Linked DNA regions of Homo sapiens. The protein of the gene in region 3 interacts with the protein of the main gene of each other region in a pairwise test. Each region holds a gene or a part of one and is shown on either strand. Other genes may lie near its edges.

Evidence for each region.
Region 1: the proteins of CNIH1 (region 3) and HTR2C interact in binary tests that used the Homo sapiens proteins (3 or more experiments, as listed by UniProt).
Region 2: the proteins of CNIH1 (region 3) and SLC22A23 interact in binary tests that used the Homo sapiens proteins (3 or more experiments, as listed by UniProt).

What each region holds. Positions count from the first base shown.
Region 1 is NC_000023.11:114,846,034-114,849,788, forward strand, and holds part of HTR2C (5-hydroxytryptamine receptor 2C isoform a precursor), read left to right. Parts: intron 1-1,969; coding exon 1,970-2,170; intron 2,171-3,755. UniProt on the Homo sapiens protein: G-protein coupled receptor for 5-hydroxytryptamine (serotonin).
Region 2 is NC_000006.12:3,450,414-3,454,168, forward strand, and holds part of SLC22A23 (solute carrier family 22 member 23), read right to left. Parts: intron 1-3,755.
Region 3 is NC_000014.9:54,439,937-54,443,691, forward strand, and holds the start of CNIH1 (protein cornichon homolog 1), read right to left. Parts: upstream 1,439-3,755; 5' UTR 1,392-1,438; coding exon 1,311-1,391; intron 1-1,310. UniProt on the Homo sapiens protein: Involved in the selective transport and maturation of TGF-alpha family proteins.

The DNA.
Region 1 (3,755 bases), on a different chromosome or scaffold from region 3:
AAAACAATACAATGAACAATTATACACCAGTAAATTAAATAACCTGGATGAAATGTAAAAATTTCTAAAAACACACATACTACCAAAAGTGACTCAAGGAGAAATAATCTGAAGAGTCATATAAAAAGTAACTACATTGAATCAGTGATCAAATACCTCTCAACAATGAAAGCTCAAGACAAGAAGTTTTCCTTTTGAATTTCACCGAACATTTCAAAAATTAACACCAATTCTTCTCAAACTCTTCTAAAAAATAGAAGATGAAGAAACATTTTGTAATATATTCTATTAGACTGGCATTATCTTAATATCAAAGCCAGCTAAAGACATTACAAGAAAATTATAGATTAGTATTGTTTATTAATATAAATGCAAAAGTCTTCAATAAAATACTAGCAAACTAAATTCAGCACCATATTATATACCCATTACTAAATGGGATTTATCTCAGGGATGCAAGAGGGATTCAACATACAGAAACTAATCAATGTAATGTATCACATTAATAGAATGAAGGTATGCAAACCACATGATTATGTCAATTGATGCAGAAAAAGCATTTGCAAAAGTCCATCACTTTTTTATGATAAAAAAATGTTCAACAAACTAGGAATAAAAGAAAATGTCCTTGACAGGCATTTATAAAAAACAAAAACAAAACCCAGTCAATAGTGAAAGACTGATTTTCCTCTAAGATCAGGGAAAAAAGGCAGAATGCCCAACTTCATTAGTTCTATTTATCATGGTACTGAAAATTCCATGTAGAGAAATTAGGCAAAGAGAGGAAATAAAAGGCAGAGGAAAATTGGAAAAGAATAAATCAAATTATTTCTATTTGCAGAAGACATGATCTTATATATGGAAAATCCCAAAGAGTCAACACAAAACATAGCTCTAATAAATGAATTCAGCAAAGTTGCAGGACATTTGTAGTTCTATACACAGTGATGAACAATCCATGAAAGAATTTAAGAAAACAATTCTATTTACAACAGCTTCCAAAAAAACCTCAATTGATAACAGCATCAGCCACAAAGAAGAATTAAGTATTGATACATGCTACGAAATAGATAAACCTCAAAAACATTAGCTAGGTGAAAGAAGCCAGACCCAAAAAGTCACAAATTGTATGATTCTATTTATATGAAATATCCAAATTAGTTAAATCCATAGACTGGATTAAGAAAATGTGGCACATATACACCATGGAATACTATGCAGCCATAAAAAATGATGAGTTCATGTCCTTTGTAGGGACATGGATGAAATTGGAAATCATCATTCTCAGTAAACTATCGCAAGGACAAAAAACCAAACACTGCATGTTCTCACTCATAGGTGGGAATTGAACAATGAGAACACATGGACACAGGAAGGGGAACATCACACTCTGGGGACTGTTGTGGGGTGGGGGGAGGGGGGAGGGGTAGCATTAGGATATATACCTAATGCTAAATGACGAGTTAATGGGTGCAGCACACCAGCATAGCACATGTATACATATGTAACTAACCTGCACATTGTGCACATGTACCCTAAAACTTAAAGTATAATAATAATTAAAAAAAAAAGATAAAAAGCAAATTAGAGATTGCCAGGAGCTGGTTGATGGGAGAATGGGAAGTAACTGCTTAACGGTATGCAGTTTCCTTTTGGAGTGATGAAATGTTTCTGAACTAGAGACAGATGCTAGTTGCACAATATTGTGAATGTACTAGATGCCATTGGATTGTACACTTTAAAGAGATTAATTTTATGTTGTGTAAATTTTACCTCAATAAAATATATGTCACGCTGAAGGTATCATTATCATGATCACCATCATCATCCCTATAGAAAATAATGCTTCCTAAATTTCACTTTCTTTAAAAGGTTTAGATTATGAGAAAATATAAGCAGACTAAAATTTGAGACTATAGTCAGTACAATTTGGATGACGTGTTCTTGTCTTCTCTCTGTTCTCTTTCAGATTATGTCTGGCCACTACCTAGATATTTGTGCCCCGTCTGGATTTCTTTAGATGTTTTATTTTCAACAGCGTCCATCATGCACCTCTGCGCTATATCGCTGGATCGGTATGTAGCAATACGTAATCCTATTGAGCATAGCCGTTTCAATTCGCGGACTAAGGCCATCATGAAGATTGCTATTGTTTGGGCAATTTCTATAGGTAAATAAAACTTTTTGGCCATAAGAATTGCAGCGGCTATGCTCAATACTTTCGGATTATGTACTGTGAACAACGTACAGACGTCGACTGGTAACATTTGCGTTTGATCGGGTTCTTTTATTTAGTAATTATTCTTAACCTATTTATCTGATATTTAGGTTAACAATAATGAAAGGAATGTAATGTGTATTAATATGTAAATATAAAGTTTCCATTTATGCTGCTAAATTATTTTATGCATTAGTATGCCAATGAATTCTGCAACACAGATACAAAATGTTTGAAATATTTAAAATGCTTTGAAAATGAGAAAGACATAAAGTCTAATTAAAGTCTAAATTTTAAAAATATAACATTTCAATCTTATATTGAAAAGTTACATGTATCCCAGAATATTAACCTTAGTATTTTTATTCTAAATTCCTATCCTTTTCAGTAGAAAAATTAATAATGCAATCTAAATCATCATCAAGTAAATATGTCTAAATTTTTGTTGCTATGACACCTAAAATGTACTATTTTCTCTCAGTTTTAATTGTCTTCTTGAATTCTGGGTATACAAAAAGAAAAAAAAATTTGTTTCTTTAAAGATTTGTAGCAGTTTAAAGGGAAAGAAATGATCATTTATTGCTTATATTTGAGGTATTCATAAATGCCTTAACAGTGCTAATATTAAAGCCAAGAAATTTAAACAATTGGACTTTAGGGGTTTTACTTTCATGTTTTTTTCCTTTTCCAGTTGGTGTAAATAATTTTTCTTCATATTTATGTTTTTGTAAAGATTGAGGTAAAGTGTGCAACAAGATCAAGACTTCTATTTAATCTTCACTAATATCATCTAAATATTTTGACTCTGGGTTTATTGATCAAATACATTTAAGTTTTAAGATTGTTCTATTGTAGATTGTTCTGCCTGTGTATAGCATAGACACCTTTGAATAAAAAGTCGTGAAGCTTGTCCCAAAAGACAAAAATGAATTTACGTAAGTTTGACTTACAAATTCAAGAGTTCACAGATTTTGCCCTAGCCATCACAAAGAGTTCATCTAAAAAGATGCCAGCTTTTATGGTGCTTACAAAGGAAATACACAGACAGAATATTGTTGCATCAGCTTCTAGTAATGAAAGACTGAGTAATTTGCAATGACTCTTGTGCTAAAGGCAAATAAACACATGGATAAAACACTAAAAGCCCTAAGAAGCTAATGAAATAGAAATTGCTATTGGCTAAGATCCAGAAAAAGACAAAAACCCAAGAAAAATGATTATGACTTCTAGTTCACTTTTGCCAATGATGCATTATAAACCTGAAGATATGACTGACAGGTGGAGACGATCATTTCAGACTCGCAAGCAATGGAGGACTAGAGTAGGAATACAGAGTCTGGCAAGGGCCAACCAACCTGAATTTAATTCTGGGATCACAAAAAAACCAGACACTAGGAATAAGGATCGACCAGGATTAAATCACCATAGACATGGAATTCAGCCCTGGTTCAAGTCATCTATGTAAATGAGAGAAATCTTGGGCCTTAAAATTGGATTAAGATGATTTCGTATTATTCAGGTTTCCAATTTTGGGGCA
Region 2 (3,755 bases), on a different chromosome or scaffold from region 3:
CTCCTACCTCAGCCTCCCGAGTAGCTGGGAATACAGACGTAAACCACCATGCCCGGCTAATTTTTGTATTTTTAGTAGAGATGGGGTTTCACTATGTTGGCCAGGCTGGTCTGGAACTCCTGACCTCGTGATCCGCCCGCCTCGGCCTCCCAAAGTGCTGGCATTACAGGCGTGAGCCACTGTGCCCGGCCGTCAGTTCGGTATTAGGAAAAGAATTTAAGAACTTTTAATAAATCAGCAAAAATATCATGCATTTAAAATGTTTCGGAAGAAATGGACAAATTCTTTTGATGAGGTGTCAAGAAAATAGTAGATTCCATTAAATAAACACTTTGATTAGAACTGTGAAAACAGGTTTGTGTGTAAGGCATTTCAAAAGTGAAAACTAGTCATCATATGATAACTAGGATCATGGAATTGTGGGCTATTTTTAAAAGTGTTACTGTTGCAATGATATAATTATTTCTAGTCTTAATTAAATTGTACTTAAAGTCACTTTAAATAACTTCTACTCTTTAGCCCTAGAAAAAGGATACAAATTACTTCCCAGGATATTTAAGCAACTTTCAGGATAAAGGTCAGAAATCTTTGCAAATTCATGAGAACAGAGGAAATGCTACCAGAAGATTGGAGCTGGACAAACATCCTACATTTCAAATACAGAAAAAATTGGGGCAAGTTCAGCTGGCATTGATTATTGGCAAAAGTTCTAGAGATTACTCAAGAAAGTGCTGAGTATTAGAAACCAACAGATTCAGTCAGAACAATGCAGGATACACTGTGCAAATTATTATTATTTTTTGAGACAGGGTCTCACTCTGTCGCCCGGACTGGAGTGCAGTGGCGCGATCTCGCTCACTGCAACCTCTCACTCCCAGGCTTGAGGGACTCTCCTGCCTCAGCCTCCCTAGTAGCTGGGATTAGAGGCGTGCGCCACCACGCCCAGCTAATTTTTCTATTTTTAGTAGAGATGAGGGCTCACCATGTTGGCCAGGCTGGTCTCAAACTCCTAATCTCAAATGATCCATCCACCTAGGCCTCCCAAAGTGCTGGGATTACAGGCGTGAGCCACTGCACCCAGCCTGTGCAAATCATTAAGCGCAATATTTGCAAGTCCATGGAGTCTTTGTTTTTTTGTTTTGTTTTGTTTTGTTTTAACTTTGTTGACTAAGATCTCAGAAGTATCTGAGAACTTGGGCTGCGCAGGGAATGCTGGTGTGGGAGAAGCAAGCCAACTGAGCTGAGCTGCGGCCCTGTTTGTCCTTAGCTCTCCAAAACTTGCTGTCTATGTCACTTGGAAGGAATTTGATTCTTTTCTGCAAGGCACTGACAATACCTTACAACAGAGCTGGGAGATAAAATGCAGAGCTTGTGAAAGTCATCAGAAAGTTGAACACAGATGGTCCCCGGCTTAAAACGGTTCAACTTGATGATTTTTTGACTTGATGATGGTGTGAACACGATACACATTCAGTAGAAACTGTATCGATAAGGGCTGCTTTATTCACCAGAAGTGAAAAACACGATGGTTGTGTGAGTATCTGAAGTACACAACCATTCTCTTTTTCACTTTCAGTACAGTATTCCGTAAGTCACACGAGATATTCAACACATTATAAAACAGACTTTGTGTGAGATGATTCTGCCCAACTGTGGGCTAATGTGAGTGTTCTCAGCACATCTGAGGTAGGCTGGGCTAAGCCAGCATATTCAGTAGGTTAGGTGTATTAAATGTATTTTCCACTTTCAATATTTCCAACTGATGAGGGGTTTATCTGGACACAAGACACAACACCATCCGAAGCAGAGGAGCATCTGTACCTGGTTCTTGTACAGAACACATGGCACACTCAACTGTGTGTTCACTGACTTAAAATCCATGATTGGCACCTGCTATTAGTCTGGCTGGTGGCTCACACCTATAATCCTAACACTTTGGGAGGCCGAGGCAGAAGGACAGCTTGAGGCCAGGAGTTCAACACCAGCCTGGGCAATATAGCAAGACCCCCCTCTCTACAAAAAAATAAAAATAAAAATGAGCCAGGTGTGGTGGTGCATGCCTGTAGTCCCAGCTACTCAGGAGGCTGAGGCAGAAAGATCACTTAAGCCTGGGAGGTGGAGGCTTCAGAGAGCTGTGATATCGTACCACTGGACTCCAGCCTGGGCAACAGAGCCAGACGCTGTCTAAAAAAAAAAAAAAAAAAAAAAAAAAAAAAAAAAAAAAAGCCTAGAGACTGACCTTGGGTTATTATTCTTAATCAAAGAAAATAATGTATATGAAATGTTTTATAAACTATAAAGGGCTGCACAAAAGAAACTGACATTAATGTTGTCATTATTTTGAAGGCATTGCAGATTCTGCGATGCAAATTCTGGTACCAATAACAAATACAAAGGCCAAGGCAAAAAATAAAAAGATCCTAACGGGAGAGATCTAGAAACTCAAAATTGTTAAGATGAAACCTAAGTCATGGTCATGCTACATGAGCCTAAAACTGAGAAAATCCTGATTTCATCCACCACTCCCAGGAAAACAACATTGGAGGGGTTGGTGATCATGGTCTGGAAGCAGAAGTATGTCATGTCTAGTTTAAGCCTAATGAATCAACTCTAGGTTGCAGTAGGGGAAGGACAGTATCCATCAATCCCCTCTTTGGGTTAGAACACACAGGGCCTGGCTGGGTTGGATTCTGGGTACCATGCTTAAGAGACACACATGCCAACCAGAGCGATAAGTATGGCAAATTTTTGCACGTATGGAATAGCTTAAGTACTGTAGATTTTTCAGCCAGGAAAGAAGCTATTGAAAACACATTTTATTTAAGAAATAATTTTTTAAAAAAAATTATTCTGAGGAGCAAGTGGCACAAATAGGCATGAGTTAACCTGAGTTTTATTTACCAAAGTGTGCCTTCCTGCAAGGAAAAGCAACTACGGGATGGACTAGCTGCCTTGTTAACAAAGCACTCCCTTTCCATCGATGGAAGTGTTCAAACTAGGATGGATAACTTCATGTTAGAGATATCATGCAGAAGGCGAGAGAGGCTGGTCAGCCCTAAGATCCCTTTTAACTACAATAACCTGGGATTCTAACTGGCTTGACAGTTTCACGTGTGTAGGTAGGTGCTAGGATACCAGCAGCCACATGAGAAAGAGGTCCAGAACTGTGCCTGGTAGCTCTTCTGTCTTCCTCTCCCTTTCTGACACCTAGGGACAGAATGGTGCATATATTGTAGGGCACACACACGCTAAAGGATACATACTAAATACAGGATACATGCTGAAGACAGCATGAGGCTTATTTGCAAGAGAAAGATCATGGAACAGAGCAGGAAAGAGGCACAAAAGGCAGCTTCTCAAACCCTGAGCTTTTATCCACTGAAAGAAGGCAAAGGCTCCTTCCACTTTCTGCTTCTACTTGGGATGTGGGCTGACAAGCACCTGACCCCTGGAACTCCTGCACTCACCATAGTGTACATCCCACATTAGTGCATCTGATACAGTATTCAACATACACAGCAGCACAGGAAAAGTCTGCCTTCCAACATGCCAAAATGTGCTTGAAAAGCTCTTTGAAGCATTTGTTATGTGCTTGAAACACACAGAACACTGGGAAGGCAGTCCTTTATTTAGATCTTTTTTGTCTGTGAAAATCAATATGTCCTTTCTAGGCTTTACTGTATAAGAAAATGTGTGTCTAATTATTGTTCCCAGGTTTCCCCTCTCAGTCTGGCCCAGTAACTGCAACGTGTCAT
Region 3 (3,755 bases):
CAGGGCTGAAGATGCTCTTCAAATTACTGCTCCTACTGACAAGCATTCTGAGGTAGCAGTTATTTCCGACACAGTTAATAGCCTACATAAGTATTCCTGATTACAATAAGCAGTCAGGTCCTAAAATAATTGTAAACATAATCACACTGCTTAGCAAAAAGGAATGGATTTGTGATATGCTTCCACTTTCGAGACTTTTTTGCACAAGACGCTGCTGCTGTTTAATCATTCTGCCCCTCCGTATGTTTCATAGAAATCCTTGTTACTGGCATGATGAAACCTGACTTAAAATCTACGTAAGAGTGAACGCGGTCATTCAAATTAAAAGCAACATTCCAGAAGGCACTGGAATATGGGGAAAAGAGAAGCAAGTATGAGATAAATTTTTAATGAATGATTTCCAGAAGGCTCTCAAGGCTTTTAATTTTGTGCTAAAGCAACAGAAATTCTTATCTCTGTAGAACTATGTCACAGGGAACTTACGACTTTTTCCTTAGAGGGACCAGTAAGGCTGTGCTTCCACCCTGCAATAGTGATGATGATGTGTGTAACAGAAATAAATACTGCCCCAGAAAAGCTTAAGGTTTCTGAGCATCTCAAAATCAAATGAAAACTCCCTCTACTAAATCAAGCAATCCTGAATATAAGGGTGGCTTGGAAAGCTGCCTGTTGAAACTCCAGCGGTCAAAGTATGATTTGGGGGGGAAACGCGCACATGCAATCAACAAAGTAATCAATTGAACTTGCATCAAAGTTCACCAGGAAACAACAATCTGGAAAAAGAGAAAAAAAGTGATTTGATTTGAAGAGCACCGAACAAGTGCTGAAAAGTAGAGTTGGAAATTCACCCTAAGTAGGTTACATTTTGGCCACAGTTCTGTGGAAACCCTAAAAGAAAGTCAATCTGTATTAACAAAAATTCGGAAAACTTCATTCACACTACGGCCGTCCCACCGCGCTGTCGACATCCTCCCCGGGAATGCAGGGCCGCGGGCCGGCAGAGGTCGGTGCGAACGCAGCGCGGAACCGCGGGCGCCCGCCTGGACCGCGGCCGCCCCATCCAGTAGGGGAGGAGTAGCGGTGCGCGCGGCCTGTGCCGAGGCAACGCGGGCGCGTCCACCTGGCGACTGCGCGCCCCGGCTCCTCCAGTACCCGCGGCCCCCAGACCCCTCGCCGCGCGGCCCGTGCCAGCCGGGCCGCATCCCCGACGCGCAAAGCCCCGGCGGCCGTGGCGGCCCGGACCGCGGGCCCGGGGCGAAAAGAGGCTGTGTTGCCGCCTCGCCCTCCTTTCCCCAGCCCCAGCTACTCACGTGCCAAATGGCGAAGAAGATGAGCGCGGCAGTGAGCAGCAGCGCCAGCATGTAGCAGAAGGCCGCGAACGTGAACGCCATGGCTGGGGAGGAGGAGCGGGGAGCGGCGCCGTTGCCAGCGGAGAAAGGCGGCGCAGGGCCCTCTGGGTAAAACCATTCACTTCCCCCGGCCACAGCCGCGACCGCCACCGCTACCGCCGCGGCGCCAGCCCTCTCAGCGCGCCTGCGCACCAGCCCAGCCGCCCCGGCGCCCTCTGATGGCCGGAGTCTGCGTTGCACTGACATTGTCCGCACAGTTGTTGATTGATTTTTCCTTCCTTCTTGCGTTTATTCTTTCAACAAATATTTATTGAATGAATGCCTAGTTTGTTACAGGTACCGCGCTTCTCGCTTCAGATACAAAGATGAATAAGATAGTACCTGCACTGAAAGAACTTAGTATAGTGCCGGAAATGAACACCTAAATAAATAATTACGTTATTATAACCCCGTAAACGGATGTGTGTGGGATGCTCTGAAAGGTCAAAGAAGGACAGCCAGCCCGCCCTGGAGCATTTAGGCAGGATTCCTGCTGTAGGTGTTTCCTAAGTTGGCCTTAGATGATGATAAGTTCTCCAGGCAAAAAGAAGGTAGAACTGGCAGTCCAAGGAAACAGTTCAGAATGAGGAAACGCAACAGAGATGGAAAAAAGAAAAGAAAAATAAAGCTTCGTGTCTCAGGTGAAACCAGCAGCAATTCTGTATTAATGGAACCTAAGTGCAAGACAGTGGTGAGACTTAGAAATGAATTAGCAAGGGATCAGATCATAGAGGGCCTTATAATGCTTCATTACGGAGCTCAGACTTCTTATCCCATAAGCCCAAATTTTTTGCTCACCACACACAACTAGAAAGATTTTTTTCATTGCAACCCAGTGGAATATCATACAGACATCAAGTTATGAAGAGGTGGAAATCTAGTTATAGAGGCAAAGAAATATAGATATGACCAAAACAAAAATTTCACAAAACTGTACTAATGATCCATAAGTACTTTCCCTTCTCTCTTTTGCTACTTGTTTTTAATGCTGGTCTTAACACACAAAATTGATTCAAAATTGATTTAACTTTCCATTACAACCATTTTTAAAAGAAAAAAACTCTATTAACTGATTGCTGCTGATGGAAGAGAAAATCATTGAAGGCTTTTGAGCAAAAGAAGACCATGTTTAGATTTGCATTAAAGATCGTTCACCTAGCAAATTGCGTAGAATAGTTTAGAAGCAGGGTCTGTCCAGTGCTGTGCAATAGAACCTTCTGTGATGGTGAAAATTTTCGATACCTAAACATTGCCCAATACAGTAGCCACTAGCCACATGTGGCCATTGGGCACTTGTAAATTGTCTAGCATGACTGAGGAACTGAACTTTAAATTTCACATCACTTTAAGTAAAATGTGGCTAGTGTATTGGACAGTACAACCTGTACCACCAGGATTATGTGGCACCTGTGTGCAAATTATCAAGTTACTTTTGGCCAGGCACAGCAGCTCATGCCTGTAATCCTAACACTTTGGGAGGCCAAGACAGGAGGATCACTTGAGCTCAGGAATTCAAGACCAGCCTGGACAAGGTAATGAGATCTTGAGAGGTGACAGCGTGCTGGCAGTCCTCACAGCCCTCCCTCACTCTCGGCGCCTCCTCTGCCTGGGCTGCCACTTTGGCGGCACTTGAGGAGCCCTTCAGCCCACCGCTGCACTATGGGAGCCCCTTTCTGGGCTGGCCAAGGCCAGAGCCAGCTCCCTCAGCTTGCAGGGAGGTGTAGAGGAAGAGGCGCGAGGGGTAACCGGGACTGCGCAGGGTGCTTGCGGGCCAGCTGGAGTTCCGGGTTGGCGTGGGATTGGCGGGACCCTCACTCGGAGCAGCCGGCCGCCCCTGCCGGCCCCGGGTGATGAGGGGCTTAGCACCCGGGCCAGTGGCTGCAGAGGGTGTACTGGGTCCCCCAGCAGTGCCAGCCCACCGGCGCTGCACTCGATTTCTCACCGGGCCTTAGCTGCCTTCCCGCGGGGCAGGGCTCGGGACCTGCAGCCCGCCATGCCTGAGCCTCCCACCCCCTCCATGGGCTCCTGTGCAGCCCAAGCCTCCCCAGCGAGCGCCACCCCCTGCTCCATGGCGCCCAGTCCCATCGACCACCCAAGGGCTGAGGAGTGCGGGTGCACGGCGCGGGACTGGCAGGCAGCTCCACCTGCAGCCCCGGTGTGGGATATGCTGGGTGAAGCCAGCTGGGCTCCTGAGTCTCGGGGGGAAGTGGAGAACCTTTATGCCTAGCTCAGGGATTGTAAATATACCAATCAGCACTCTGTATCTAGCTCAAGGTTTGTAAACACACCAATCAGCACCCTGTGTCTAGCTCAGGGTTTGGGAATGCACCAATGTGCACTCTGTATCTAGCTTCTCTGGTGAGGCCT